Linked DNA regions of Homo sapiens: all the other regions are linked to region 1. The links come from fine-mapping of genetic effects on gene expression. A gene starts in region 1. Each other region holds a variant in brackets. All regions are shown on one strand. Distances are from middle to middle.

What was found. PIP is the estimated chance that this variant, and not a neighbour inherited with it, causes the effect. A credible set is the group of variants that fine-mapping cannot tell apart.
Region 2: its variant is the best candidate, but not a certain one, in a credible set for the expression of NDRG3 in platelets (CEDAR, PIP 0.88).
Region 3: its variant is the best candidate, but not a certain one, in a credible set for the expression of NDRG3 in whole blood (TOPMed, PIP 0.65).
Region 4: its variant is the best candidate, but not a certain one, in a credible set for the expression of NDRG3 in whole blood (TOPMed, PIP 0.62).
Region 5: its variant is the best candidate, but not a certain one, in a credible set for the expression of NDRG3 in lymphoblastoid cells (GEUVADIS, PIP 0.81).
Region 6: its variant is the best candidate, but not a certain one, in a credible set for the expression of NDRG3 in prostate (GTEx, PIP 0.64).
Region 7: its variant is the best candidate, but not a certain one, in a credible set for the expression of NDRG3 in whole blood (TOPMed, PIP 0.88).

What each region holds. Positions count from the first base shown.
Region 1 is chr20:36,744,093-36,748,530 of GRCh38, reverse strand. NDRG3 (NDRG family member 3) reads left to right here and starts at 2,441. Exons shown (of 16, transcript NM_032013.4): 1 at 2,441-2,486. RefSeq lists enhancers at 2,188-2,287, 2,012-2,978 and silencers at 2,398-2,597, 2,628-2,817.
Region 2 is chr20:36,688,258-36,692,695 of GRCh38, reverse strand. NDRG3 (NDRG family member 3) reads left to right here. Exons shown (of 16, transcript NM_032013.4): 4 at 3,912-4,017. Among named protein-coding and RNA genes, the nearest start is that of SLA2, 44 kb to the right of the region's middle. The variant C/T (reference allele first, on the strand shown) is at 1,798.
Region 3 is chr20:36,577,353-36,581,720 of GRCh38, reverse strand. TGIF2 (TGFB induced factor homeobox 2) reads right to left here. Exons shown (of 3, transcript NM_021809.7): 2 at 2,755-2,980. The coding sequence starts at 2,946. It overlaps TGIF2-RAB5IF (TGIF2-RAB5IF readthrough), which reads right to left. Exons shown (of 5, transcript NM_001199535.2): 2 at 2,755-2,980. The coding sequence starts at 2,946. Among named protein-coding and RNA genes, the nearest start is that of TGIF2-RAB5IF, 5.0 kb to the right of the region's middle. The variant G/A (reference allele first, on the strand shown) is at 2,350.
Region 4 is chr20:36,806,813-36,811,250 of GRCh38, reverse strand. MTCL2 (microtubule crosslinking factor 2) reads left to right here. Exons shown (of 15, transcript NM_080627.4): 7 at 1,144-1,269; 8 at 2,508-2,738. Among named protein-coding and RNA genes, the nearest start is that of DSN1, 35 kb to the right of the region's middle. The variant T/C (reference allele first, on the strand shown) is at 1,931.
Region 5 is chr20:36,535,515-36,539,952 of GRCh38, reverse strand. The region is part of intron 2 of DLGAP4-AS1 (DLGAP4 antisense RNA 1); the gene reads left to right. Among named protein-coding and RNA genes, the nearest start is that of MYL9, 3.8 kb to the left of the region's middle. The variant G/T (reference allele first, on the strand shown) is at 2,770.
Region 6 is chr20:36,716,193-36,720,630 of GRCh38, reverse strand. The region is part of intron 2 of NDRG3 (NDRG family member 3); the gene reads left to right. Among named protein-coding and RNA genes, the nearest start is that of NDRG3, 28 kb to the left of the region's middle. The variant C/A (reference allele first, on the strand shown) is at 1,668.
Region 7 is chr20:36,408,813-36,413,250 of GRCh38, reverse strand. All of the region lies in intron 2 of DLGAP4 (DLG associated protein 4), which reads right to left. Among named protein-coding and RNA genes, the nearest start is that of DLGAP4, 100 kb to the right of the region's middle. The variant A/C (reference allele first, on the strand shown) is at 2,513.

The sequences.
Region 1 (4,438 bases):
AATAACATTTGAGAGTTGCTGATGTCTAGTTCTTGATGACTTGAGAATGAATGATATAGTCCACAGTAGAGCAAGAAGGGAAAGTTTGGATGGTCTCATGGAAATCCAACATTTAAGAATCAGAGCAGAGCGGGACACAGTGGCTCATGCCTATAATCCCAGAACTTTGGGAGGCCTAGGCAGGAGGATTGCTTGAGTCCAAGAGTTCTAGACCAGCCTGAGCAACATGGTGAGACCCTCGTCTATATCTATCTCTATCTGTATCTCAAGAATCAGAGAAATGCTCTTAATTGCCTACTCTTTCATAAACAAAGTAGTACAATGGAGAGAGTTGGAGTGAATTTTCCTTTTTCTTTTTTTTTTTTGAGACGGAGTCTCGCTCTGTTGCCCAAGCTGGAGTGCAGCAGCGCAATCTCGGCTCACTGCAAGCTCTGCCTCCCGGGTTCACACCATTCTCCTGCCTCAGCCTCCCGAGTAGCTGGGATTACAGGCACCCGCCACTACGCCCAGCTAATTTTTGTATTTTTAGTAGAGACGGGGTTTCACCTTGTTAGCCAGGATGGTCTCGATTTCCTGACCTCATGATCTGCCCGCCTCAGCCTCCCAAAGTTCTGGGATTACAGGCGTGAGCCACTGCGCCCGGCCATGAATTTTCATTTTATCCTCAATTTCCTCATCTGTAAAATGGGGACAGATTATCTCTCTAAAGATGATTATACCCTCCCCCTTTTTATTTATTACATTGTATTGCATTTTTTGCTTATAAGGATTTCTTCAAACTCAAGAAGTATGTTTTGTGTCTTCAACAGTAAAATACGATAGAACAAAGAAAAATAATACTTACTGAGCTCTAAGCATTTTACATGCATATTATCATTCAGTCTTTGCCACAACCTTGTAACTTCTATTTCTGGGTGTGTGACATAGATGAGGAATTCGGGCATGGAGAGGTGTGGAGAGACTTAATTGTCTAACCAAGGACATAGGGATAAATAGTGGATGGTGAACTAGAACTAATTTGAATTCAGTAAATGTTAACGAACATAAACCATAAAATAAATGGCTGTGCTCAATTAATGTTAGTTTTCCTTCCAACTAAATTCAGTTCAAGAATTGTGCTTGATGAATAACAATATTATTGCTGCCCTCTGAGATGTTTGGTAATATTCATTTGTTCAGTTTGCCTTAATTAAAAGAATATGCTTTTAGTGGCCGGGCGTGGTGGCTCACACCTGTAATCCCAGCACTTTGGGACGCAGAAGCAGGCGGATTGCTTGAGGTCAGGAGTTTGAGACCAGCTTGGCCAACATGGTGAAACCCCATCTCTACTAAAAAAAAAAAAATACAAAAATTACCCAGGCATGGTGGCGCCCGCCTCTAGTCCCAGCTACTTGGGAGGCTGAGGGACTTGGGAACCTGAGCCGAGATGGCGACACTGGCTCGGGTTAAAAGGGCGTGGTGGCTCACACACCTGTAATCCCAGCACTTTGGGAGGCCGAGGCGGGCAGATGACGAGGTCAAGAGATCGAGACCATCCTGGCCAACACGGTGAAAACCCGTCTCTACTAATAATAGAAAAATTAGCCAGGCCCGGTGGCACACGCCTACAGTGCCAGCTACTCGGGAGGCTGAGGCAGGAGAATCGCTTGAACCCAGGAGGCAGAGGTTGCAGTGAGCCGAGATCGCGCTAGTGCACTCCAGCCTGGCGACAGAGTGAGACTCCGTCTCAAAAAACAAAACAAAACAAAACAAAAAAACTTTTAGTCAGTGGTACTTAATGGTAAAGAAATAATAGATAATAAATAGAGGAAGAGTGTGTCCTGTACATTTTGGTGTTAAATTGTTGGGTCATTAAGTTTAATATCTGCAATCATTCTGGGAAAAAAAATTCCATCTCTAATGTTGCATTCAAGAAAGTAGATGATTTGGCTGACGGTTGTAATAGGGGTGATACAATGGAGGACTGGTAATTCGGAGCCCTGAGTCTTGGACTCTAGTTCTTAAATTACTATGTTCATTCACCAAAAATTTACTAAGCTCTTTCCACGTGCCGAGCACTGTGCTAGGCGCCCTGTGACCTTGGGTATGGCTCTAGGTCACCTTAAAAGGAGGATGCCATACCCTGCAAGAGCTCTTAGGGGCTTCATAAGGATGCGACTCAGGGAACTGAGGGAAGCGCTCCAGACGCAGAGCTCAATGGCCCTGCCGCCCAGCGCCTCCAAAATCTGAGATTCTTCTCTGAGGAAACTCCGCAGCAAGAAAAACTACATCAAAGATGGCGCCGCCGGCCTCTCCTGGCTCAGCCACCATCTTCTCGGTAGTTCCCGAGGTGGACGGGCACAGCACTCATGCGCCGCCCTGGCGTCCTCGGCGCGCCTGCGCGGACCGCAGCACCTCCCCCGCCCCTCTCGCCGCCGCCGCCGCCGCCGCCGCCGCCGCCGCCGCCGCCGCTGCTGCTGCACTGACGGCGGGTGCCCGCGCCTCAGGTGAGTGAGCGCCTCCGCCCGGCCCGCGGGGGGCGCGCGGCGCCGCATTCGGGGGCGTCGCTCCTTTGCCCTGCTCCTTCCCCGCATCATCTCCGCGGCACGGCGAGGCCCTGGTGGCCCGTGCTGCTTGCCTCCCCCGTGCCCCCGGGGCCCTCTGCCCCGCCCCGCCCGCCCGCCGGACCCAGGTCAGCCCGGCTTTCCTCGGCCGCTCCCCGCGCCCAGCCCGCCGGCGACAGCGTGTGGGTAGCAAGAGAGCCTCCCTCCGGGCTCAACACCCTGGGTCACAGGGACGCCCCCCGCAGGCGCGAACCCTTCTCTCGCTCTGGCTCTGCAGGCGGCAGAGCTTGGTGGGCCTTGGGGTTGCTCATCCATCTACCTCGCCCGCTCCAAGAGCCCAGATGCTTGGAAGAGGGGCCGTGAGCAGCCCTTGCACCCGTCCGGCCCCAGAGCAGCAGAGGGCATCCTCTAACGGGACCCTACGACTACCCTACCGGGGAGAGGCTTCTTAGCCCCACTTAACAGCCGAGGAAACTGAGGCACGGAAAGGTGAAGTGCCATGCCCAAGGTCACGCAGCTGACAAGTGGCAGGGTCAGCTCTCAACTCAGGGTCTCGGGCTCTCAGGCCAGTGCGGTTGGAATTTGATCTCGTACCTTTGAAAAAATTTTGAAATCACTTGTCATCTCTGAAGTTGCTCTCGAACGTCGTAAAAGTAGGCTGCACAAAAAAGATTTTCTTGTTGTCGGAGTACAATTGAGGTGTTACTGTAATAATAATAGTGTTATTAATATAAGAGCTAACGTTCTTCCACCGCTCGCTGTGTGCCAGGGATCTTGCTAAGCATTTTATTAAGATAACCTCGCATAACCACCTCTGCACTTCCCAATCCAAATGCTTCCCCCTTCCTTGTCATGAAGCCCTTTTTTTCTTCCTGCAGAGCTGGCCTCCCTATCACAGGTAGACTAGGAGCCCCGTGGATTAGGAAGCAGGGAAGCTTTCCTTTGGTGGCTTACTGACAGAACAAGAGTGATCCTTGCCTGCTGGCATCCAGATCACCCCCGCCGCGCCCCCCCCCCCCCTTACCCTGGCCCTCAGGGGATATTATTAGCCTTCCTTTCCTGCCAAGAGAGCAGGACTGGGCTGACTGGGCTAGCTGGGCGGGCTGGACTTGGAGGTGACAGAGCAGATTTGGCTAGCACTCACCTCATTCCGGGGCTTTCTGTCCGAGGCTTTCTGCCTTTGCCCCAAGGTTGGGCTTGAACATTTCAGTATTTAAGATAAAGCAAGAAGAGAAAGAGAACATTGATAGAGTGGTGCTGAATTTAAGAAGCCTCCCATGATTTAAAGTTCCAAATGAACAGCTATAAAAATATGTGAATGTTTCTCCCCCAAAATAACTAGCTCAAACTGTCGTTTTTCTCCCTTAGCAAATCCTCCTCCACATTTCAAAGGCTCCACTAAATCACCACCTTCTCTGTGAAGCCTTCCCTGCTTGATTTTCCCAATTAGAATTACACGTTCACAAAACAGGGTCTTAGCCTCAGTCTTACCCTGCGGACTTCTAGCCCCTTGAGGGCATGGTCCATCTTTGCAGCTCCAGATGCCTGGCTCACAGTAGATCCTTGGTAAGGACTCAGTTAATTTCCACCCCCCCTTTTCATTACTCAAAGCGTGGTGTTCTTCTGGTGCCCTTCTGTTCCTCCTTCCTGCCCTTCAGTTTCTCTTTGCTTGTCTCTTCCTTCAGATTAAACTTGTCATCACCATTTACCACTCAAAGGCCTCCATCCACCCTGTTGTTTTTGAAAACTTGCAGATAAGAGTCTTGCATCAAAAAGCCTGTTTATGGACCGGGCGCTGCGGCTCACGCCTGTAATCCCAGCACTTTGGGAGGCCGAGGTGGGTGGATCACGAGTTCGGGAGATGGAGACCATCCTGGCTAATACGGGGAAACCCC
Region 2 (4,438 bases), 56 kb after region 1:
AGCTAGCACCAGAAATCTAAGGCCCCAGCCTTAGATTATATCTATATGTAAAATTGCTGTAGGGTAAAATTTCTGTAGGGTAGACACCTCTTAACTTTACTAGAAATTACCAAAGTATTCTCCTGGTAGTTGTTCCAGTTTATATGCCTTACCAACAGTATATGTTGATTCTTGTGGGGCACGGTGGCTCACGCCTGTAATCCCAGCACTTTGGGAGGCCGAGGCAGGTGGATCACTTGAGGTCAGGAGTTCGAGACCAGCCCGGACAACATGGTGAAACCCCATCTCTACTAAAAATACAAAAATTAGTGGGGCTTGGTGGTGCACACCTGTAGTCCCAGCTACTTGGGAGACTGAGGCAGGAGAATTGCTTGAACCTGGGAAGTGAAGGTTGCAGTGAGCTGAGATCGTGCCACTGCACTCCAGCCTGGGCGGGCGATAGAGTAAGACTCCGTCTCAAAAACAAAACAAAACGTAAAAAACAGTATATGTTGGTTCTTAGTTATTTCTCTGCATCCTGGTCACCACTTAGCATTATCTGACTTTACATTTTTGCCATTTTGGTATGTATGAAATAGTATTTTATTGAATTTAATTTCCATTTTCCTGTCTGTTTAGTGAAGGTAATGTCTTCTTACTTTTCTATCGTAGCACCCTAGTTGTTTCTTTTATAGCACCTATCACAAGCTATTATTACAGGTGGATTTGTTTCTGTGTTTATTGTGTGCCTCCCTATGTAGAACATAATCTCTGTGAAGACTGGGATCACATTTCTCAGGTTTACTGTTTTATCCCCACAACTCAGACCAGGGTCTGGCATGGAGTGGCATTCAATAAATAGATGTTTAATGAATGAACCAGGGTCGGGAAGTGAGTCCTTTAATAAGTCTGACATTACTGTAAGAGAAATACAGAAATAGGAAGTTATTTCTTTATATTCCTCCTATCCAAACCTTATGCTTTATTTGTTATATTTTTTTGAGACAGAGTCTCACTCTGTCACCCAGGCTGGAGTGCAGTGGTGTCACAATTTCGGCTCACTGTAACCTCTGCCTCCCGGGTTCAAGCAATTCTTCTGCCTCACCCTCCTAAGTAGCTGGGATTACAGGCACCTGCCATCATGCCTGGCTAATTTTTATATTTTTGTAGAGACAGAGTTTCACTGTGCTAGACAGGCTAGTCTTGAACTCCTGACCTCAGATGATCTGCCTGCCTCGGCCTCCCAAAGTGCTGGGATTACAGGCATGAGCCACCGCGCCTGGCCTATACTTTATTTCATAGCCAGTTTCACAGTACCTGATTCTAGTCTTCATTTCTTATGTTCATTTTTGAAGGCTTTGAATAGACTTGACTAGGAGGTAGTAGTAATAGAAAATAACAGAAATATTGAGTCACACATGGTTTGATTTGGTAGGGATGGCTATCGGCTCCAGCCTAGGGCCTGTAATTTGAGATATACTGATGTCCAATTAGCTTAAGATTGTCTTCTGGTGCCCACATCAGAGAAGAAACCAAAGCTCTTATGAGGTTCATTATTAGATAGGAAATTAAACTGGAAGCCCTTTGCCTTTTTTGGGATTCTCATTGACAGAGTTAATCTTGTCTTACCTAATGTAAGACTTTGTAAGATAGATACAGGCTTCATCAACAGAAATTCGCTAGGATAGGAATGGTAATTTTTTTATTTTTGAGAAATATAAAACTTGAGCACGACTAGAATAAATCTCAGTTAACTTTTCAGTAGTCCCTTTTTTTTCCACCCAACCACTCTTAGTGCGGCATCTACTCTCAGCAGCT[C/T]GGTGCATCTTTTGTCTGCTTTATTCAGTTCCTGAGCTTTGCTCGGTGCATCTTTTGTCTGCTCTATTCGGTTCCTGAGCTTTGCTCGGTGCATCTTTTGTCTGCTCTATTCGGTTCCTGAGCTTTGCTCGGTGCATCTTTTGTCTGCTCTATTCGGTTCCTGAGCTTTGCTCGGTGCATCTTTTGTCTGCTCTATTCGGTTCCTGAGCTTTGCTCGGTGCATCTTTTGTCTGCTCTATTCGGTTCCTGAGCTTTGCTCGGTGCATCTTTTGTCTGCTCTATTGGGTTCCTGAGCTTTGCTCGGTGCATCTTTTGTCTGCTCTGTTGGGTTCCTGAGCTTTGCTCGGTGCATCTTTTGTCTGCTCTATTGGGTTCCTGAGCTTTGCTCGGTGCATCTTTTGTCTGCTCTATTGGGTTCCTGAGCTTTGCTCGGTGCATCTTTTGTCTGCTCTATTGGGTTCCTCAGCTTTGCTCGGTGCATCTTTTGTCTGCTCTATTCGGTTCCTGAGCTTTGCTCGGTGCATCTTTTGTCTGCTCTATTGGGTTCCTGAGCTTTGCTCGGTGCATCTTTTGTCTGCTCTATTTGGTTCCTGAGCTTTGCTCGGTGCATCTTTTGTCTGCTCTATTTGGTTCCTGAGCTTTGCTCTGGCTACATCTTTAACTGATTGGCTTGGTTAAGATCTTTTAGGAGTAGAGGGTACAAACTCACCCAATATAGCTTAAACCAGAGGCAGTCCAGGGATGTCTTAGAACTTAGAAGTATACACAGCTAGCACCAGAAATTAGAGTAGTGGAAATGCCTACTAAAATCTCCCAAGTTGATTCCTCTTTTCAAGAGGAGAGCCAAGCTGAAGTTAGAATCTCTTAGTTCCAATTACAGGCTGGGCGCGGTGGCTCACGTCTGTAATCTCAGCACTTTGGGAGGCGGAGGTGGGTGGATCATGAGGTCAGGAGATCGAGACCATCCTGGCTAACACAGTGAAACCCCGTCTCTACTAAAAATACAAAAAATTAGCTGGGCGTGGTGGCAGGTGCCTGTAGTCCCAGCTACTTGGGAGGCTGAGCCAGGAGAATGGCGTGAACCCAGGAGGCGGAGCTTGCAGTGAGCCGAGATCGCGCCACTGCACTCCAGCCTGGGTGACGGAGCGAGACTCTGTCTCAAAAAAAAAAAAAAAAAAAAATCTCTTAGTTCCAAGGGAAAGGTGCTGACCCAGCCTGGGCCAGATGCCTCCCTGACTCCAGTAAGCTATGGCCGTAAGTTTATGTTCCACAAACATGGTAGCCAAGATCCACCCCTGTAACGTGTGGATGACACAGAAGGACAGCTCCCAGGAAAGAAGGGATCCTAGGCAGATACACCCATAGGTGTCTGGTGAAATTATCTACTGAAATTAATTATAAATTATCTGAACATGTGTTCAGAAGCTCCAAAACCTCTGATTTTTTACCCAGCAACTTCTTCATATCTTCCATTTCCTTTTTTCCCCACAAGTCTTACCTGGCTCCTTACCCAATTTGCTGATTTCCTTTCCATAGCCAATTGCAAATGTATTCTCAACAGATCCCTGGGCTCGTAAGTGAGCTTTGGAGATAACAAGGTGTGTTTTGCTCCCTATTTATTTTTCTGGAAGAATTGGAAAGTAGGAATATTATGTATACTCTAGCATCTCTCTGGTATGCATTTATTTTATTTTATTTTATTTTTTGAGACGAAGTCTTGCTCTGTCACCAGGCTAGAATGCAGTAGCACGATCTCAGCTCACTGTAATCTCTGCCTCCCAGGTTCAAGTGATTCTCCAGCCTTAGCCTCCTGAGTAGCTGGGATTATGTGCGTGTGCCACCATGCCTGGCTGATTTTTTATTTTTAGTAAAGACAGGGTTTCATCATGTTGGCCAGGCTGATCCTCAAAGTCCTGACCTCAAGTGATCCGACCACCTAGGCCTCCCAAAGTGCTGGGATTACAGGCGTGAACCACCACGCCCAGCCACATGTAATTTATTAATGTGTCCTGCCCCAGCTCGTGGGAAACGGTGGTAAAGCAGGTATTGTGAAACTTTGGCAACCTGGGAAGTTCATTCTGCTTTTTCTGAGAACTTACATTCTCTTGTTACAGGAACATGATATAGAAACAACTCATGGTGTGGTCCACGTCACTATAAGAGGCTTACCCAAAGGAAACAGACCAGTTATACTAACATATCATGACATTGGCCTCAACCGTATGTATTTTATTTTACACCTTCCCTTCTTATCATACTTGATCTTTGTATGTTAAAAACCAAACAACAACAATATTCTAATAGAGCAGAGGTTTCCCCCTCTCTGTGGTAACTTTCCCTCCTTGTTCCTACATTCGTTAATGGTATAAAGTTCCTGGGAAGTGTGCAGGGGAATGTATTCTGGGGATACTGGAATCACATCTCGCCTTCATGTCTGCTAAAGGATTGCAGATTATACAATGCACTGCTAAGAAAGTAGAACTGAAATCCATGTTTTCAAGCCTGTACTCTGTTTTTTTTTTTTAAATATGTTTCAGGTTAGAAAATTCAGAGTTGGAACTTAACTTTGTTGTGAGCTCTTCAATGAATTAGTAAGAATTCTTGCTAGAGCCTGTCACCAGTGACTTTAAGTGGACTTTTC
Region 3 (4,368 bases), 170 kb after region 1:
GGAGGCAGAGGTTGCAGTGAGCTGACATCGCACCACTGCACTTCCAGCCTGGGTGACAGAGCAAGACTCCATCACACACACACACACAGATAAATAAATAAAAGGAGTTAGTATATTTCTCAGGTTTGAGAAAGTGTCCCTGACAAAAAGTAATTCCAATAGAGTGTGACAAGTGGTTTGACAGGACAGGGTGAGGTGCACTGGGAATATAAGCAGCAGCCCCAAACCTAGGCTGTAGATCAGTTTGGACTCTATCCTGAGGGCAGTAGAGTCCAGGAGTGCCTGGCCCTATCAGATTTGGGCTTTTGTGTTCAAAATAATGGATTAAATGAACAAGGCTGAAGGCTGAAGGCTGAAGGCAGGGAGACCCGCAAAGAGGCTGTCCAGACACTCCTCGAGGGTAAGAATGTGTCTGGAGCCTCTCTCAGATCCCAACTCTGCACAGCTCCATGCTGAGGAGGTACACTGTGAGATGCCACGCACTGCTGGGCACCCAGGATCAGCCAAAGACTTTGTGCCTTAGGCAGAGATGAAGCTGAAAACAGTAGAAACACCCACTGTATGCCAAACACTGACCAGTAGGTGTTTTTTTTGAGACCGAGTCTTGTTCTTGTTGCCCAGGCTGGAGTGCAATGCCACCATCTCGGCTCACCGCAACCTCCGCCTCCCAGGTTCAAGCAATTCTCCTGCCTCAGCCTCCCGAGTAGCTTGGATTACAGGCATGCACCACCACACCTGGCAATTTTTTTTGTATTTTTAGTAGAGATGGGGTTTCTCCATGTTGGCCAGGCTGGTCTTGAACTCCCGACCTCAGGTGATCCACCCGCCTTGGCCTCCCAAAGTGCTGGGATTACAAGTGTGAGCCACCGTGCCTGGCCTTGTTTTTTTTTTTTTTTTTTTTTTTTTTGAGACAATGTCTCACTCCTTCGCCCAGTCTGGAGTGCAGTGGTGCGATCACAGCTCACTGCAGCCTCCACCTCCAGGGCTCAAGTAATCCTTCCTCCCACTTCAGCCCCCCAAGTAGCTGAGACTACAGGTATGTACCACCATGCCCAGCTAATTTTTTTGTTTTGTACAGATGGGGTCTCCCTATGTTGCCCAGGCTGGTCTCAAACTCCTGGGCGCATGCGATCCTCCTACCTTGGTCTCCTAAAGTGCTGGGATTACAGGTGTGAGCCACTGTGAAGGGCCCCAGTGAGCCTTGAATTCTTCTTCTCGTCCCTTTCTCCCTACACTCATGAAAGTGCTACAATCACCTCCCTTTTTTCAGATGAGGGAATAATGAGGCTCACAGAGAAGGCAGTGACCTGGCCAAGGTCCAGGTTTCCTCTTGTGGAGAAGATGGAATCTGAGTCAGGATCTGTAACTTTAGAGCCTTTCTCATACAGAGACTTGGATTAACCATTGCCCAGAGTATAAAGTCAGGTGACAGGAGTTCTGAGGGCTAAAATACTTACCATGTCTCTACATGGAAGAAAGATAGGAGCTAGGAAGACGTGGGAGGTTCAGAGTGGGATAAGGGAAGGAGGGAGAGACAGCATCAAAGGTTGGAGTAATAAGCTATGAAAGGACAGAGGGGGAAAGAGAAACAGGAGAGCTTGTGGGAGAGGTTTGACTGGCTCAGGAAGGGAGCAGTGGGGGCCAGCAGGGCAGGGCTGGGCCTCTTGTATTAGGCTAAGGGCCTACTGTGTGTCTCCAGGAAGGGGAGAGGCAAACTGGAGGCAAAGCAATGGTGGTTCAGGGTCCCCCGCCTCTGCTCCAGGAAAGCAGAACAAAGACACCTGCGGGTCAGCAATAGGCGCGATTCAAAGGGGACAGTACTTTGCACTCTGACAAAAAGGGGATAAGGCTATCTTTTGAGTGTGTTCATGTGCATGGTTTGCAAAGCACTTTCACATCCAGTTCTGAATCTATTCGTCACAACAGATCCACCAGGCAGGGGAAGACTCTGTGTACCCCCTGCCCCTTTACAGATAAGGAAATCAAGACGTGAGGCAGAACTGGATTATGAACACAGAACCTCTGACTTCTGCCCTTTCCTGGACTGTGATCCTGCCCCATCTCTTAACCACACTGCAAATTACAGCTGCCCCTTTCAACCAAGTCGCCGTCCAATACTGCGTTGGGGCTGGGGGCTGAATCCTAGATGCTCGATGCCTTCTCATCTTCCCTTGGCCTCCAAAGTTAAGGATGACACCTAGACTTTGACAACATTAAATTCCTTGCCTCTTCAGAACTATCCAAAGTCTGGGCCAGGCGTGGTGGCTCACGCCTGTAATCCCAGCACTTTGGGAGGCTGAGGCGGGTGAATCACAAGGTCAGGAGTTCGAGACCAGCCTGGCCAACATG[G/A]TGAAACCCTGTCTCTACTAAAAATACAAAAAATTAGCTGGGCGTGGTGGCGGGCGCCTGTAATCCCAGCTAGTCGGGAGGCTGAGGGAGGAGAATCACTCGAACCCGGGAGGCGGAGGTTGCAGTGAGCCGAGATCGCATCACTGCACTCCAGCCCGGGTGACAGTGCAAGACTCCGTCTCAAAAAAAAAGGACTATCTAAAGTCTGAAATTGACTGCAGCGACCCTATTTCATTGTCTTCCCTTGAGACAGGGAGAGTGGGTGTTCTCCCCTAACCCAAGAAGAAACCGAAGCCCAGACAGTGAAAGTGAGTGGCCCAAGACCACAGTGACTCAGTGACACAGCTGGAATAGGACTAGAACCCAGGTCCTCCTGCCACCCCCTTATCCAGATCCCCTCCTTACTTGCAGCACTGACAGGTTGGTCTGTCCAGAAAGGCTCAGCTTCTCCTGCTCTGAGGGGTAGGCGTTGTAGCGGTGCAAGTACAGCCAGTCCCGGAGGATCTTCACCGACTCCTTGGGCAGGTTCCCCCTGCGCTTCCTTTTGCCCGCCAGGGAGAGGAGGCCTTCGTCCTCACCTAGATCACTGTCCGACATGGTGCCTAGGGGCTAGGCTGGACCTTGGGTAAACCTGGGACAAGGGACACAGGGGATGGGAACATCATTAGCACGTACCGCCTTTTCCTAGTCTCCAAACATGCTCAGCATTACTTGAGCCTGGGACACCAGAAATGGGGTAGTTGCAATTCAGAATCTCAGGCCGTAACACAGACCGAGCAAGCTAGAAGGGATGAGTCCAAAGTTCCTCCACTTCATGGAACAGGTAGGTGACTACCGAATGGCAGCTCATTCACAAGCAGGACTCAGGCTGGAAACAATTACAGCTTCTACTGAGGTCTACTGTTTTCCATGTTCGGTACTAAGCATTTGGTTTTTTCTTTTCTTTTTTTTTTTTTTTTGAGAGAGGCTCTCACTCTGTAGCCCATGCTAGAGTGCAGTGGCGCCATCTTGGCTCACTTCAACTTCTGTCTCCTGGGTTCAAGTGATTCTCCCACCTCAGCCTCTGAGTAGCTGGGATTACAGGCATGCACCACCATGCCTGGCTGACTTTCTGTATTTTTTGGTAGACACAGGGTTTCACCATATTGGCCAGGCTGGTCTTAACTGCTGGCCTCAAGAGATCTAGCAGCCTCAGCCTCCCAAAGTGCTGGGATTGCAAGCGTGAGCCACCATGCCTGGCCTGTACTGAGCATTTTACATGTTATCTCATTTAATCATTACAATTCCCCAATAAGGGAGAAGCTATTATTATCATCATTTTATAGATGAGGTAACAGAGATCAAGAAAGCTGCCCAAGGCCTGCGCAGTGGCTCACACACACACACACAAAATACAAAAATAAGCCAGGTGTCATGCTGTGCATTTGTAAGCCCACCTACTTGTGGGACTGAGGCAGAATTGCTTGAGCCCAGGAGGTCAAGGCTGTAGTGAACTGTGTTTGTGCCACTGCACTTCAGCCTGGGTGACAACAAAATAAAAAAGGTCTCAAAAAACAAAGGCCGGGCACAGTGGCTCATGCCTGTAATCCTAGCACTTTGGGAGGCCGAGGCAGGCAGATCACGAGGTCAAGAGATTGAGACCATCCTGGCCAACAGGGTGAAACCCTGTTTCTACTAAAAATACAAAAATTAGCTGGGCATGGTGGCGCGTGCCTGTAGTCCCAGCTACTCGGGAGGCTGAGGCAGAATTGCTTGAACCTGGGAGGTGGACGTTGCAGTGAGCCGAAATCGTGCCACCGCACTCCAGCCTAGTGACACAGCGAGACTCCATCTCAAAAAAAAAAAAACAAAAACAAACAAAGGCCGGACACGGTGGCTCACGCTCGTAATCCCAGCACTTTGGGAGGCCGAGGTGGGTGGCTCACCTGAGGTCAGGAGTTCGAGACCAGCCTGGCCAACATGGCAAAACCCCGTCTCTACTAAAAATACCAAAAAAAAAAAAAAATTAGCTAGGTGTGG
Region 4 (4,438 bases), 63 kb before region 1:
TGACAATTGCCCAGTGCTGTTGACCACTGAGTTCAGGGAGGAAACCAGGGACAGCAGACAGTATGTAGCCCTGCAAAAATTTTTAATGCAAAACAGATATAGAAGATATACCTCAAGTCACTGTGCCTTCCACTGCCAAATCATCATATTATTGACCATATAATGAATGTTTACTTTCTCACAGAGGGACATTTGCCATGCCTAGGAAGGTTTTATGTAGGAGTTCTGGGGCCAGGCACGGTGACTCACACCTGTAATTTCAGCACTTTGGGAGGCCCAGGTGGGCAGATTGCTTAAGCCTAGGAGTTCGAGATGAGCCTGGGCAACATGGCAAAATCCTGTCTCTATCAAAAATATACAAAAATTAGCCAGGCGTGGTGGCGGGTGCCTGTAATCCCAGTTAATTGAGAGGCTGAGGCAGGATAATCGCTTGAACCTGGGAGGCAGAGGTTGCAGTGAGCCAAGATCACGCTCAAAGCTGGCGAAACTCCGTTGAAAGAGAGAGAGAGAGAGAGAGAGAGAGAGAGAGAGAGGGAGAGAGAGAAGGAGGGGAGGGTGGGTGAAGGTTGGAGGTCAGAAGGTCTTCACATAGTTCCCACTGGTTACATTTATTGTGTGTGTCCATGTCCTTTGTATGTTTTTTTATGGAGGCCTATAGCGTTTTTGGTTTTGTTTTTCTACTTTCTGTTGTAGTATAACATAATAACATACATACAATAAAGGACACTGTCCTTAAGGGTACCACTGAATGGATTGTTACATATGTATAGATCCATTAAGCATCTTTTAAGTCCCATCATTTAGTATCTAAGTTGTTTCTAAAATATTGCAATTATAAACAATGAAACAATGAACATCTTTGTGAATCAAACTTAGTTTTCCCAGTACCTTATTAAGATAAATTTCAGAGAGAAAAGAACAAGTTCCAATGGTAACAAAAGCCAGATTTGATATGTACTGTTTCATTTAATCATCATGACGACCCTCAGAGGTGGGGACAGTCATTCTGCCTGATTTGTATTTGGACAGCTTGGGTCCAACATCCCATCGTTCCCCTACCACTGTCATCCTTAGATCACAATTTCTATCCACTTCTTCCTCTCTCTCCCTCCTCATTATCTGTGTCCCCTGTCTGTACCACAGATCAAGGAGCTGCAGCTGGTGCTGGCTGAGGCCCACGACAGCCTCCGGGGCTTGCAAGAGCAGCTCTCCCAGGAGCGGCAGCTACGAAAGGAGGAGGCCGACAATTTCAACCAGAAAATGGTCCAGGTGCGTGGTGCCCAGCGCTTTCCAGGCAGCTATTCCTACAGCCTCTCTGAGCTGGAAGCAGAGGCCTTGAGGATCTATGGGCCCTCTGAAGTCAAGAAAGTCAGGGGAGGCTGGGTGTGGTGGCTCACGCCTGTAATCCCAGCACTTTGGGAGGCCAAGGCAGGCAGATCACTTGAGGCCAGGAGTTTGAGACCAGCCTGGCCAACATGGAAACCCCGCCTCTACTAAAAATACAAAAATTAGCCAGGCGTGCACTAGCACGCCTGTAATCCCAGCTACTCAGGAGGCTGAGGCAAGAGAACCGCTTGAACCCAGGAGGCGGAGGTTACAGTGAGCCGAGATCATCCCACTGTATTCTAGCCTGGGTGACAGAGTGATATCTAAAAAAAAAAAAAAAAAAAAAGAATGAAAGAATGTCAAGGGAAACCTGAGTCTTCAGCCCCTGTGCCCTGCTGGGATGTTATTGTCCTTGCCATTGTGCATTAGTTGTGTAACAGGGCTGTCATTGGCGGCCTGTGGGACCTGGGGCCAGTCCTGTTTTCTCTCAGGACCTCAGTTTCCCATTTATGAAATGGTGCCCTCATCAGGCCTGGCTTCTAATCAAGATAATAGTTCTGGAATAACATTTGTTAAGCCCTTACTGTATGGTGGGCCTGTCCAA[T/C]GCACTTTCTACCCATTATGTCTTTTAATCCTTGTGCCCTCCCTTATCACCATTTTGCAGATGGGGAAACTGATGCCCAGAGAGCTGGAGTGCTCTGCCCAGGGTTGCACATCCAGAGTGTGGCAGGGCTGGGCCTCTAATCCAGGTCCCTCTGTTAGGCATGACACTGCATTGCTTCCTAGGGTGTTGCCTAGTCATCAGCTGTCCTCAACCCTGGCACGCCCTTTGCTCTCCATGCGTCACCCCTCCCTGCTATCATCGCTCACCCTCGCAGGTTCCTCATTGAACATGAGCATTCGTGTGAGACATTTGGTGCCCAGGAGGTGCTCAGTATATGATGTCATGGTTTTTTAGAGCCAGGGTCAAATCCCAGCTCCTTCAATGATGTGTCACTGTTTTTGCAGGAGCAGAGGGCAGTGCTCATCTGAATAGATTGCGCCACGTGTGGTGGGATCCCCGGCAGGGATCACTCACAGGCACCACCCAGACTTTCCTCCCTGCCCCTGTCCAGGGGCCCAGAAAGGGGTGGGGGAGAGGACAGGGCCCTGGGGTTGCTCAAGCTCTTGTCCCCCGGCAGCTGAAGGAGGACCAGCAGAGGGCGCTCCTGAGGCGGGAGTTTGAGCTGCAGAGTCTGAGCCTCCAGCGGAGGCTGGAGCAGAAATTCTGGAGCCAGGAGAAGAACATGCTGGTGCAGGAGTCCCAGCAATTCAAGCACAACTTCCTGCTGCTCTTCATGAAGCTCAGGTGGTTCCTCAAGCGCTGGCGGCAGGGCAAGGTTTTGCCCAGCGAAGGGGATGACTTCCTCGAGGTAAGATTGGGCCAGGGACTGGGACTGGGAGTGTGGGCTGGGGAGAGAGGGACAGGGAAGGGACGCCCAGCTGGTATTGACACAACTCCTAGGCTCACATACCTGCCATCAGCATGCAGGCTTCCTTCCTGCATTCGTTGCTTTTTTTTTTTTTTTTCCGAGATGGAGTCTCACTCCAGCCCAGGCTAGAGTGCAGTGGTGCAATCTCAGCCTGCTGCAATCTCCATCTCCCGGGTTCAAGCAATTCTCCTGCCTCAGCCTCCCGAGTAGCTGGGATTACAGGCACATGCCACCATGCCCAGCTAATTTTTGTATTTTAAGTAAAGACAGGGTTTCTTGGCCGGGTGCGGTGGCTCACACCTGTAATCCCAGCACTTTGGGAGGCCGAGGCGGGTGGATCACGAGGTCAGGAGATCGAGACCATCCTGGCTAACATGGTGAAACCCCGTCTCTACTAAAAATACAAAAAATTAGCCAGGTGTGGTGGCGGGTGCCTGTAGTCCCAGCTACTCGGGAGGCTGAGGCGGGAGAATGGCGTGAACCCAGGAGGCGGAGCTTGCAGTGAGCCTAGATTGTGCCACTGCACTCCAGAGTGGGAGAGAGAGCAAGACTCCTTCTCAAAAAAAAAAAAAAAAAAAAAAAAAAAAGACAGGGTTTCTCCATGTTGGCCAGGCTGATCTCTCAAACTCCTGACCTCAAGTAATCCACCTGCCTTGGCCTCCCAAAGTGCTGGGATTACAGGCATGAGCCACCATGCCTGGCCAAAAGATATGTTTACTTAACAAGAGGGAGTAGGCTGGCTTAAAAACATTGGTGATAGTACAGGTGGTATTAGGATGTGGCAGGAAACGTGGGGGCGGAGCTCTGGGAATGTAAGAAGCTTAGAAAGGACCCACCTGACCCATTCATGCCCCAGTCTATGCAGGACCCTTTGCTGCTCAAAGCCCTTGCGTCCTGTCATCAGCACAGCAGCACACATCAACACATCAGGGAAGAGAAGGGGACTTACAAGGATGTCAGACCTTGGTCACACTCATCTTAGTTGACATTGTTCACTTTGGCCGTGTCCTTTTGGGTTCAGGTACCTCGAGTCTAGCCCAGGCTTGGCCCTCCTCTAGTCCAGGCTGCTCTCTGTAGTCCCCTGTCCAGATCCAGTAGGGAGCATTGGCATGCCTCAAGTTGCCACTTACGCCATCAGGGGTACTCCAGAGGAGCCCAGATGCCCCAGGAGCCAGGCAAGACAGTTAGACCTGAGTGTGTAGCAAGACCCTGCATCACCCTATCTCAGTGGGGCTCATCATTCTCGCAGGCCACCAGCTCCTCCCCAGGGCCTCATGGGAGAGTCACTACCGCCATTCCATAGGCCCACACCCTGCTGCCCTGGCCCTGCAGTGCCTGACACAGGGCCGCCCCTGGGAGCATTCGCCTCGGTCCTCCTGTCCGAAGCTGTCTCTTCTGTGACGTTTGGAAACATAGGAGCCCTCTCACCTGTTTGGAAGTCTCACAGGCCTCTGGATGAAGCCCAGTTTAAGGGAATGACCTGCAGGCCACACAGTCTATATTTTAAGTCAGTTTGTCTCAGACGAACCCTCCACATTTGGTGAAAACCTTTCTAGCCATTTCCATATCCTAGAGTAAAAGAGAGAGAAACTTACTTTAGGGAAAAAAAATTAGGGCATAAACATAGAAAATTGGCTAGG
Region 5 (4,438 bases), 210 kb after region 1:
GTAAGATCATTTGTCATCACATTTCTTCAGTGTCCCAGTTTTACATTTTATTTTTTGATTGTGGTAAAATATACATAACATAAAATTACCATTTTCAGCGTGTTTTTTTTTTTTTTTTTTTTTTTGAGATGGAGTCTCCCTCTGTCGCCCAGGCTGGAGTGCAGTGGCGCCATCTCAGCTGACTGCAAGCTCCGCCTCCCAGGTTCATGCCATTTTCAGCATTTTTAAGTGTATAGTTTGGTGGCATTAAGTATATTCACTTTGTTTTGCAACCATCACCACCATCCATCTCCAGAGCACTTTCATCTTCCTCAGCCGAAACTCCCTGCCAGTTAAACACTAACTCCACCTTGCCCCCTTCTCCCCGCCCCTGGCAGTCATCATTCATCTTTCTGTTTTCTGTGAGTTTATCTACTTATTGGGGCCTCATGTAAGTGGAATCATATAGCATTCGACCTTTTGTCACTGGCTTATTTCACCCAGCATAATGTCCTCAAGCCCCAGGTTCATCCATGTTTAGTGTATATCAGAATTTCTTTTTGGGGGTGGGGGGTTGAGATAGGGTCTCACTCTGTCGCCGTGGGTGGCATGCAGTGGCACAATTATAGCTCACTGCAGCCTTGACCTCCTGGGCTCAAGCAATCCCCCTGCTTTGACCCCCTCAAGTAGCTAGGGCTGCAAGCATGCACCAGCACACCCGGCTAAGTTTTCTTTTTTTTTTTTGAAACGGAGTCTCGCTCTGTCACCCAGGCTGGAGTCCAGTGGCGCGATCTCGGCTCACTGCAAGCTCTGCCTCCCGGGTTCATGCCATTCTCCTGCCTCAGCCTTCCGAGTAGCTGGGACTACAGGCGCCCGCCACCATGCCCGGCTAATTTTTTTTTTTTGTATGTTTAGTAGAGACGGGGTTTCACCGTGTTAGTCAGGATGGTCTCGATCTCCTGACCTCATTATCTGCCCGCCTCAGCCTCCCAAAGTGCTGGGATTACAGATGTGAGCCACTGCGCCCGGCCCACACCTGGCTAAGTTTTCTACTTTTGTAGAAACAGGGTCTCCCTGTGTTGCCCAGCCTGGTCTCAAACTTCTAGCCTCAAGCAGTCGTCCTGCCTGGACCTCCCAAAGTGCTGGGATTATAGGCCTGAGCCACTGTGCTTGGCCCCGGCTAATTTTTTAAAAAATTCTTTTTGTAGAAGTGGGATTTTGCCATGTTGCCCAGGCTCTCGTCCTTTTTAAGGCTGAATAATATTCCATTGTTTGCATAGTTTGTTTATCTACTCATCATGGATGGACACTTGGGTTGCTTCCACTTTTTGGCTATTCTGAATAATGCTTCAGTGAACATGGGTCTCTTCAAGTTCCTGCTATTGTTTTTTTAACCTGACATTGTGAACATATAAGTCTCTGTTTTCAATTCTTTTGGGTATGTGCCCAGAAATGGAATTGCTGGATCAAATGGTTATTCTATTTTTAACATTCCGAGGAACTGCAATAACTGTTTTCTGTAGTGGCTGTACCATTTTAAATTCCCATCAACAGTGTACAAGGGGCCTGGTGTGGTTGCTCTTGCCTGTAATCCTAGCACTTTGGGAGGCCTAGACAGGTGGATCACTTGATGCCAGGAATTTGAGACAAGCCTGGCCAGCATGGTGAAATCTTGTTCTCTACGAAAAATACAAAAATTAGCCAGGTGTGGTTGTACACGCCTGTAATCCCAACTACTCGGGAGGCTGAGGCAGGAGACTCACTTGAATCCGGGAGGCTGAGGTTACAGTGAGCCGAGATCGCGCCGCTGCACTCCAGCCTGGTGGACAGAGTGAGACTCGGTCTCAAAAAAAAAAAAAAAAAATTCTTGGCCCATTTAAAAGAGCAGGGTTGTTTTTTTTTTGATTCTAGGCGTTTTAAAAATATGTTTTGGATATTAATCCCTTGATATGATTTGTAAATATTTTTCTTATTCTACAGGTTTTCTGTATTTTAAAGAAAAGCTTAAATTGTTATCTTTTATAAACCATAAAATTCACCTATGAAATGTACAATTCATTGGTTTTAGTGTATCTACAAAGCTATGTAATTATCGGCACTACTATGTAATTCCATAACATTTTAGTAAGTAATCCCCCAAAGAAACCCTGTACCTGTCAGCAGTCATTTCCCATTCTCCTCTCATCCCAGCCCCTGGAGACTATGGATCTACTTTCCCTCTCTATCAGTTTGTTTACTGTAGAAATTTGTTTTTGTGTTTTGAGATGGAGTTTCACCCTGTCACCCAGACGGGAGTGCAGTGGGGCTCACTGCAACCTCTGCCTCTTGAATTCAAGTGATTATCCTGCCTCAGCCTCCCTAGTAGCTGGGATTACAGGCACCTGCTACCACCCCAGCTAATTTTTGTATTTTTAGTAGAGATGGGGTTTTACCATGTTGTCTAGGCCGGTCTCGAAATCCTGACCTCAAGTGATTCACCTGCCTCAGCCTCCCAGAGTGCTGGGATTACAGGTGTGAGCCACACGCCTAGCCAGCTTGTTTACTCTAGAAACTTCAAACAAATGCAGTCATACAATGTCTGGCTTCTTTCGCTTAGCATAATATTTTCAGGGATCATCCATATTGCAGAATGTCCCGGGACCTCAGTCTTTTTCATTGCCAAGTAGTATTCTGTTGTATGGCTATATGCTACATTTTGTTTTTGCATTTGTCAGCTGATAGACATTTGGGTTGTTTCTACTTTTTGTCCATTATGAATATGGTGCCGTGAACATTAATCTGCAGGTTTAC[G/T]TGTGGATATACGTTTTCACTTTCTCAGGTATATAAGAGTGGAACCGCTGGGTCATATGGTAACGCCTCTATGTTTAACCTTTTAAGGAACTTCCAAACAATTTTGCACAATGTTGTCCCATTTTGAATTCCCACCGGCAGTGGATGGTTCCAGTTTCTCTACTTCTTCACTAATACTTGTCTGTCTGTGTTTGTATTAGAGCCAGGGTCTCACTATGTTACCCCAGGCTGGACTTGAACTCCTGGGCTTAGCAGTCCTTCCACCTCAGCCTCCCGAGTAGCTGGGACTACAGCTACCTGGCCCTGCTTGTCTTTTTAATTCTAGTCATGCTATTAGGTGTGAAGTGGCATCTCATTGTGGTTTTGATTTGCATTTATCTAGTGACTGAAGATGTTGAGCATTTTTCACATGCTTATTATTGGACATTTGTGTATCTTCTTCAGAGAATTATCTATTTAGGCTGGCCGCGGTGGTGGCTCACGCCTGTAATCCCAGCACTTTGGGAGGCCAAGGCAGGCAGATCACCCGAGGTCAGGAGTTTGAGACCAGCCTGGCAAAAATGGCGAAACTCCGTCTCTACTAAAAATACAAAAATTAGCTGGGGGTGGTGGTGGGTGCCTGTAGTCTCAGCTACTCGGGAGGCTGAAGCACAAGAATCACTTGAACTCGGAAGGTGGAGTTTGCAGTGAGCTGAGGTCATGCCCCTGCACTCCAGCCTGGGCAACAGAGAGTGAGACTCTGTCTCAAAAAAAAAAAAAGAAAAAAAAAAAAAAGTGTCTATTTAGATCCTTTTACCTATTTAAAAATTTGTCTTTTGGTTTTGAGCTGTAGAAGTTCTTTACATATTCCGGCTATTGCACCCTTATCAGATAAATGAGTTGCAAATATTTTCTCTTATTATGTGAGTTATCCTTTCACTTTCTTGATAAACATGTGTTCTTTGAAACACAAGTTTATTTTTTATTTTTTATTTTTTTTTTGTTTTTTGAGATGGAGTTTTGCTTTGTCGCTCAGGCTAGAAGTGCAGTGGTGCGATCTCGGCTCACTGCAATCTCTGACCCCTGGGTTCAAGTGATTCTCCTGCGTCAGCCTCCCGAGTAGCTGGGATTACAGGCACCCACCACCACACCTGGCTAATTTTTGTATTTTTAGTAGAGACAAGGTTTCACTATCTTGGTCAGGCTGGTCTTGAACTCCTGACCTCATGATCCACTGGCCTCGGCCTCCCAAAGTGCTGGGATTACAGGCATGAGCCACCGCGCCCGGCCGAAGCACAAGTGTTTTTAACTTTTAAGTTTAGTTTATCTGTGTTTTCTTTGGTTGCTTGTGCTTTGGTGTCATACCCAAGAAGTCATTGCCTGATCCAAGGTTATGAATGTTTACACTTGTGTTTTCTTTTCTTTTCTTTTTTTTTTTTTTTTTTTTGAGATGGAGTCTCGCTCTGTCGCCCAGGCTGGAGTGCAGTGGTGTGATCTGGGCTCACTGCAAGCTCCGCCTCCCAGGTTCACGCCATTGTCCTGCCTCAGCCTTCCCAGTAGCTGGGACTACAGGTGCCCACCACCACGTCCGGCTAATTTTTTGTATTTTTAATAGAGACGGGGTTTCACCGTGTTAGCCAGGATGGTCTCGATCTCCTGACCTCATGATCCACCCACCTTGGCCTCCCAA
Region 6 (4,438 bases), 28 kb after region 1:
ATGTGGTCTTTCTGTCAATATGACATCAGGGAGGACTGGATGTCAGTAATATACCACATTTTTATGTTAGTGTCAGAGAACTACACAAGGAGCAGATGAGACCACAGTTGATGACCACTAGACACTGGTGTGATATGATTTACCAAAAGAAAGGTTTTGGCCAGGTGCAGTGGCTTATGCCTGTAATCCCAGCACTTTGGGAGGCCAAGGCTGACGGATCACTTGAGGTCAGGAGTTTGAGATCAGCCTCGCCAACATGGTGAAATTCCATCTCTACTAAAAATACAAAAATTAGCTGGGCGTGGTGGTGCAGGCCTGTAGTCCCAGCTACTCAGGAGGCTGAGGCAGGAGAATCACTTGAACCCGGAAGGCAGAGGATGCAGTGAGCCGAGATCATGCCACTGCACTCCAGCCTGGGCGACAGAGCAAAACTCTGGCTCAAAAAAAAGAAAAGAAGTTTTGTTTTCTCTCTTGTTCCTTATTGTTCGGTAAATGTGCCTGAAATTCCTTCTTTTTTTTTTTTTGAGACGGAGTCTCACTCTGTCACCCAGGCTGGAGTGCAGTGGTACAATCTCGGCTCACTGCAAGCTCCGCCTCCCGGTTTCAAGTGATTCTTCTGCCTCAGCCTCCGGAGTGGCTGGGATTACAGGCGTGCACCTGGCTAATTTTTGTATTTTTAGTAGAGACAGGGTTTCACCATGTTGGTCAGGCTGGTCTCGAACTCCTGACCTTGTGATCTACCTGCCTTGGCCTCCTAAAGTGCTGGGATTACAGGCATGAGCCACCATGCCCAGCTGCTTGAAATTCCTTCTTTTCCACTCTATTCTTTTGGTGTATTGTCATTGTCCCCTCTTGAAATACTCTTGTAGCTTTGTGTGAGTGAGGCCATGCCATCCTTTCCTGAGGGAGTGTTGACGGAGTGTGAGGATAAAGATGGATGGGCGGAGGGGCGGGGAGGGGGGGTGTGCGGGTGACACCAGGGGATGATCTGTTGCTTATTACTTTTTATCTGCCCAAGGCAAGGCCCTTCACCTGCAGCCTCTGGAGCTGCTGACTTATTTTGTGCTTACTAATTTGCTTTTGAATCCTGCCACCCCTATTTTCATCCCTGTGACCTCTCCATTCCCACTCCCACCCCTTCTTTTATCTTTCACCAGACTTCTCTCTCCCTTGGCAAGCTGCAGGCTTTTTTTTTTTTTTTTTTTGAAACGGAGTCTTGCTCTGTCACCAGGCTCGAGTGCAGTGGCGTGATCTTGGCTCACTGCAACCTCTGCCTCCCGGGTTCAAGCGATTCTCCTGCTTCAGCCTCCCAAGTAGCTGGGACTACAGGTGTGCAACACCATGCCCAGCTAATTTTTGTATTTTGACTAGAGATGGGGTTTCACCATGTTGGCCAGGATGGTCTCGATCTCTTGACCTCTTGATCCACCCGCCTCGGCCTCCAAAAGTGCTGGGATTACAGGCGTGAACTTCCACGCCCGGCCACTGCACGCTTTTTTAACCTCCATTTGGTTTCTCCTGCTGCATCCCCTCATATTTCCAGAAAACTCTCTCCTTTAAGTACCATTTGTGTATGTGTGTATGTGAAGGGCTGTGCCAAAAATGTTGTGCCTAGGAGAGGAGGAAGGAAATAAAATCTGAGCCAGGCACACACCTATAACCTGGCT[C/A]ACACCTATAATCCAAGCACTTTGGGAGGCTGATGCTGGAGGATCACCTGAAGCCAGAAGTTCAAGACCAGCCTGGGCAACAAAGGGAGATCCTGTCTACCAAAAAATTAAAAAAATGATCCAGGTGTGGTGGCAGATGCCTGTAGTCCCAGCTACTTGGGAGGCTGAGCTGCGAGGATCACTTGAGCCTGGGAGGTTGAGGCTGCAGTGAGCTGTGATTGTGCCACTGCACTCCAGCCTGGGCAACAGAGTGAGACCCTGTCTCAGAAAATAAATAAATAGAGAAAGAGGCTCTCTTTCTCTCTCCCTTCCCCTGCCATATGGGGACACAGCAAGAAGGCAGCTGTCCACAAACCAGGAAGAGATTAATCATGAGAAACTGAACCCTTCTAGAACCTTAATCTTGAACTTTGCAGCCTTCAGAACTGTGAGAAAATAAATTTCTGTTGTTTTAAGCCATCAAGTCTATGTTATTTTGTTATGACAGCCCGAGTAGACTAAGACACAAAGCAGTGTCTCACTTCCTAACATCTATCTGCTCCTCTTTGATAGGCCTATGCTGTTCCTACCCACTTCCCACATTCCACCTTACTCCTTTCTCTCCCTGAGACGTAAGTGCTCCTGTGCCATCACTATTCATGAGAACTCTCTTGGCTCTCGCCAAGCAGGTAGATAGGCAAGAGGCCCTCTTTAGATCATGGCACCTCCAAACAAAGACTTCCACCCCGTTAGCCTCCCTCTCCCCCTCCCCAGTATGTGAATGCTTCTGTCTTTGCGCAGCAAGTGGATGGTTTTGTGTATATAGTAAAAGGTATAATGATAATAATGCCTCTCATCCATTACTTCATTTGAACCTCCCAATAGCTTGATGAGGAAGGAGCACAGATAAATGTATTCCCACATTGCCAGTGAGTAAACGAAGGCTAGGAAAGGTGAAGTAGCTTACTCCTATTGAGTATCAAAGAATGCCTGCTGTATGGCAGGATTTCTCACTGTCGATGTTTTGGGTTGGATAATTGTTTGTTGTGGAACACTGCTCTGTGCATTGTAGAATGTTTAGCAGCATCTTTGGCCTCTACCCACTAGATGCTAATAGCACTCCCCAGTGGTGACAACCAAAAATGTCTCCAGACATTGCCAGATGTCCCTGGGAGGCAAAATTTCCTTGGTTAAGAACCACTGGTATAGAGGAAAAGCCTTCAGATTTGCATAGAAGTAGATGGCTTGAGGGTTTTGTTGTTGTTGTTTTTGCCTGTCCTGCTATGATTTATTATCTCTTATGTGCCAAGTGCTTTACATACATTCTCTCTCTCAGAATATCCCTTTGAGATAGATAGTATTATTCCTACTTCACAGATTAAAAATCCGAATGAAAGGCTGGTTTGCCCAGTAAAGAAGTGGCAAAGCCAGACAGAAACCAAAGTCTTTCCTACTCTTAAAACCTGAGCTGTTTCCACTGTGTTAATCCTATAGATGTTTTGGCATCACCTTTGTGGCTTACCCTGTCTCTTTAAGGAGAAGCCTAAAAATGTGTAGTATTTCACCTTATCCTTCTGTCCATTATTCTCATAAATATACTGAAGACATTGCTGCATCCTCCAGGCTTCAGGAAGCTAAAGGAAGACTAGAACCAACCTTTTACCGTGAAATTTGTCCTGAGATGACTTGTAAGGAGGCATTCTCAATATAGCTTTGAGCAAGGCTTATGTTGTCTCTTGTCATTTGTTGGTACTTTTCCCATTTTATTTTAGTATGCCTGTAATTTTGTCTACGGCTCAGAATTGTCAAGAAGTGGATAATTTTGTCATACTTGTTTTGGCTCTAGTGATGAAAAGAAGCAACCACCAGTACTTTGTTTTGCGGGACAGAAATTGCATGGGCATATGAAATGATTTTTAAAATAGCATTTAACTATTTTCAGAGCACTTTCACCAATAATATCTTATTTTAATCTTCCAGTCTCTTGTAAATAGTTGAAGATATTTTAACTCTATTTTACAGATGACACTGAGAGGTTATCTGATTTGTTCAGAGCTAGTGTCTGTTAAGTTGGTGAAGCCAGGCTAGAACCTACATCTTTTGACTTTGACCTGGACCTGGGGGTCTAGGGTTCTTCCCACCATCTACTGCCTCTTGTACCTGGTTGTTCCAGGCTCCTCACCCAAAAGACCTTGTAATAAACAGGAGAGTAGACTGTTTTGCCTCATTTTCCCTGCCTTCCTCTACCTACTAGGTTCAGATACTACTGAACCCTGTGAAAGCCAAAGGTGAGGCTTGAGAAAACAAGTAGAAGGCCACACTTGGCTTCTGAAGAATTGAGGAAATAGCAGAAAGGGGAATAAATGTTTAGTAGAGAGAACAGAAAAAAGTTATATACTTTGTTTTGGTTGTTACAGTAGAAAGTGAGGTAAATCTTTTTTTTTTTTTTTTTGAGATGGAGTCTCGCTCTGTTGCCCAGGCTGGAGTGCAGTGGCATGATCTCGGCTCACTGCAACCTCTGCCTCCCAGGTTCAAGTGATTCTTCTGCCTCAGCCTCCCAAGTAGCTGGGATTATAGGTACCTGCCACCATGTTCAGCTAGTTTTTGTATTTTTAGTAGAGATGGGGTTTTGCCATGTTGGCCAGGCTGGTCTTGAACTCCTGACTTCAAGTGATCCGTCCGCCTCGGCCTCCCAAAGTGCTGGGATTACAGGCATGAGCCACCGCACCCACCTGAAAGTGAGGTAAATCTTACTGCAGTTTAAGTTTTCCTTTTCTACTAATCACAACATG
Region 7 (4,438 bases), 340 kb after region 1:
ATCCCAACACTTTGGGAGCCCGAGGTGGGTGGATCATCTGAGGTGGGGAGTTCGAGACCATCCTGGCCAACATGGTGAAACTGTCTCTACTAAAAATACAAAAAATAGCCAGGTGTGGTGGCACACGCCTGTAACCCCAGCTACTCAGAAGGCTGAGGCACAAGAATCGCTTAAACCCAGGAGGCGGAGGTTGCAGTGAGCCAAGATCGCAACACTGTACTCCAGCCTGGGTGACAGAGTGAGACTCTGTTCCAAAAAAAAAAAAAAAAAAGAAAAGAGTTCTGGAATAAACAGTGGTGATGGCTGTACAACACTGTGAATATACTTCATGCCACTGAATTGTAACTCTAAAATGGTTTAAATGGCCAATTTTATATGTATTCTACCTCAGTTTTAAAAGGCGTTTCACCTGGAGGATGTATCTGTAAGCTCCAGTATGAGTGTACACAGAGAGCACCCCATAAGGTCTCTAGTAGGTGCTCAATAAAGAGGTGCTGCGGTTGTTACATGAACTCCCAAAAGTCTTGTGAATCAAGACCTTTTCAGAGCTTACTGATCAGATGCTTCCTACATACACGTAAGCACTTTGTTTGGATGATCTTTTTGAATCCTCCAATCAGCCCTATGAAGGAGGTCTCATTGTTGGTCCCGTTCTATAGAAAGAGAACAGAGGCATAGAGAGAAATGATTTGTACAAGGTCACACAGGTGTCAGAGCTGGGATTTGAACCCAGGCAATTTGGCTCCAGAGCCCATGCCACTAATGAGCTTCCTGTGCTGCTTCTCAGCTCTCAGGAGACAATGTCCAGTTGGCCACCACCTCACAGAACCCTGAGCCTGGGCCATGCTCAGGGGACACAGCCTCTAACTGTGGGCTCACCAAAACCTTCGTCTGACAGGCTGGGAGATGCCTCTTAGGGGAGGACTGTGCAAAGGCTGTCCATGCTGCCCTGCCCTCTAGCCTCAGAGCTCTGACTGCAGGGCAGGCGGATTCTGGAGGCCACCTGCCTCGCCCTGTTTCATTCCGGCCCCCACTGGGGAACCATCCTGGAAGGTCATGCTGGCAAACAGCAGAACAAAATGGTCAGAATGCAGCAATTGCCAGCACATTTAATTCAATTCTTCCAACATTTATGGAGCCTGCTCTGTGACTCAGATGGCCTCAGCCCTTAAAGAGCTTGTGGACAAGTGGAGGGAGGCAGAAATACACACAGCACTTGGAGAACACATAAAAATAAATCCTGGAGTGTCGAAGCCAGGATGTGCAGCCCAGTGAAGACAGAGATTAATACTCACAGGGGCACCAGGAAGGGTCCCCAGAGGAGACGGTATTTCAGCCAGATCTCTGAGGACAAGTAAGATTTCCACAGACAAAGGTACAGGGAAGAGCGTTTCATAAAAAGGGATAAGTAGAGACAAAATCATGGCCAAAGGCGAGGGATTCAGGGAGTGCTGGGGGACAGCAGATTGTCCATGTGGTGGGCATGGGCTTTGAGGGAGACAGGGAAGCGAATGCCTGGGCTCAGATCCTGGAGGGCTTGATGCCCCCTGCCCCTCTAGGAACTCTGGATTTAAACTGTAGGCCATCAGCCATCAAAATAGAGGAGACCCCAAAGGCCATGGGTGCCAGCAATTCCGCTTCTAGGAATTACCAGCGGCCTTGCCTTATGCACGTGGGAAATGATGGGTGTGTGGGGCCTTTCCTGACATAATATTTGTATTAGCAAAGGGCTGAAAACATCCCAAAAGGCTGTCCATGAGGAGACCGGGTAAAAGATCACCCAGCACCCCATGGACTGCTATGCAGCTGTCAAAAAGAATAAGGTGGCACTGAGTGTACTGATGTGGAAAGCTCTCCAAAGGTACTGTAAAGTGAACACAGCAAGGGGCAGAACGGGGTCAGGGCATCTGTCTGATTTGGGTTCTCCGAGAAGCAGACCCTCAGACAAGAATTTGAATTGAAGGCCAGGCGCGGTGGCCCACGTCTATAATCCTGCACTTTGGGAGGCTGAGGTGGGCGGATCACCTGAGGTCACGAGTTTGAGACCAGCCTGGCCAACATAGTGAAACCCCATTTCTACTAAAAATACAAAAATTAGCTGGGTGCGATGGCGCATGCCTGTAGTCCCAGCTACTTGGAGGATGAGGCAGGAGAATTGCTTGAACCCAGGAGGCGGAGGTTGCAGTGAGCTGAGATCATCCCACTGCATTCCAGCCTGGGCAACAGAACAAGACTCTGTCTCAAAAAACAAAACAAAACAAAACAAAACAAAAAAGAATTTGAATCTATTTGGGAGGTGATCCCAGGAAGTACAGTGTGGGGATGGGGACACAAGGAGAGCCAATGAAGGCTGCACAACCTCGCTGTGGCACCCAGGCTTAACCCCGCTGGGAACTCTGCTGATATGGTTTGGATGTTTGTCCCCTGCAAATCTCATGTTGGAATGGGATCCCCTGTGTTGGAGGTGGGGTTTGGTGGGAGGTGTTTGGATCATGGGGGCACGTCCCTCAAG[A/C]ATGGCTTAGCACCATTCCCATAGTGATGAGTGAATTCTCACTCTGGTAGTTCACCAGGTTGTTTAAAAGGGTGTGGCACCTCCCCTATCCCCCACACTCCCTCTCTTGCCATATGACACTGCCTGCTTTCCCTTCACCTTCAGCCATGATTGGAAGCTTCCTGAGGCCCTCATCAGAAGCAGATGCTGGAGCTATGCTTGTATAGCTTGCAGAACTGTAAGCCAATTAAAGCTCTTTTCTTTATACATTACTCAGCCTCAGATATTTCTTTATAGTGATGCAAAATTGGATTATCACATCTACACTTCAGGTAGAACACATATCTCAGAGTTATCCCATGGAAGGGCGAGGGAGTTGGGGTCCGTATTCTCCACTTCCTTCTGCAATGGCTGAGGGCTGCCCCTGGGGAAATGAACACCCCAGCACTTCCACCCTCCCAGTGCAGGCTGAAAGAAAGCCCTCAGCTGGAGAAATGCAGGTTTTTCCAGAAGGAAGTGGCTGGCATAAACCAAACTGAGCTTGAGGTGGTAGAGGCAGGGCACTGACAGCATCTGCTACAGTATGCAGCTACCAATCCTCTAAAAGAGGGGTCCAAGAATTTTATTCGTATTTGCCTATCAGTGGAAGGGTACCCAATAAACTAGGAACAGGAACAAGGTGGATGGAAGAAAGAGTAGGAGGAGTACTTTTTTTTTTTTTTTTTTGAGACGGAGTCTAACTCTGTCGCCCAGGCTGGAGTGCAGTGGCGTGATCTCGGCTCACTGCAAGCTCCGCCTCCCGGGTTCATGCCATTCTCCTGCCTCAGCCTCCCGAGTAGCTGGGACTATAGGCGCCCGCCACCATACCCGGCTAATTTTTTTGTATTTTTAGTAGAGACGGGGTTTCACCGTGTTAGCCAGGATGGTCTCGATCTCCTGACCTCGTGATCCGCCCACCTTGGCCTCCCAAAGTGCTGGGATTACAGGCTTGAGCCACTGCGCCCGGCCAGGAGGAGGGCTTTTTATTATGTTTCTTTTTTTTTTTTTGAGACAGTCTTGCTCTGTTGCCCAGGCTGGAGTGCAGTGGTGTGATCTTGGCTCACTGCAACCTCTGTCTCCTGGGTTCAAGTGATTCTCCTGCCTCAGCCTCCCTAGTAGCTGGGACTACAGGTGCATGCCACCATGCCTGGCTAATTTTTGTATTTTTTGTAGAGATGGGGTTTTGCCAGGCTGGTCTCAAACTCCTGACCTTGGGTGATCTGCCCGCCTCAGCCTCCCATAGGATTACAGGTATGAGACACTGCACACAGCCTATGTTTCTTTAGAGTTAAAAAAAAAAAAAAAAGAGTTAAAAAAAAAAAGTCTTAAAAAAATTTTTTTTATTTTACTTTAAGTTCTGGGATACATGAAAAAAATAAGTCTTTTAGGTTGTGCACGGTGGCTCACAGCTGTCATCCCAGCACTTTGGGAGGCTGAGGCCAGGAGTTGAAGACCAAGAGTTCGAGGCCAGCCTGACCAACATGGCAAAACTCCGCCTCTACTAAGAATACAAAAAAATTAGCTGGGCATGGCTGCACATGCCTGTAATCCCAGCTATTTGGAAGACTGAGGCATGAGAATCGCTTGAACCCGGGAGGTGGAGGTTGCAGTGAGCCAAGATGGCGCCACCACACTCCAGCCTGGGTGACAGAGCGAGACTCTGTCTCAAAAAAAAAAAAAAAAAAAGCCTTTTATTTGGCAATAGTTTTAGATTATTCTAGGTTGCAGATAGTATAGAGACTTCTTGTATAACCCTCACCTGGTTTCCTCTAATGTTAACATTTTACATAACAATGGTACATTTGTTGAAATTAACATTGGTACATTACTATTAACTAAACTCCAGACTTTATTTGGATTTCACCATTTCCATTAACGTCCTTTTTCTGTTTCAGGATCCAGTCGAGG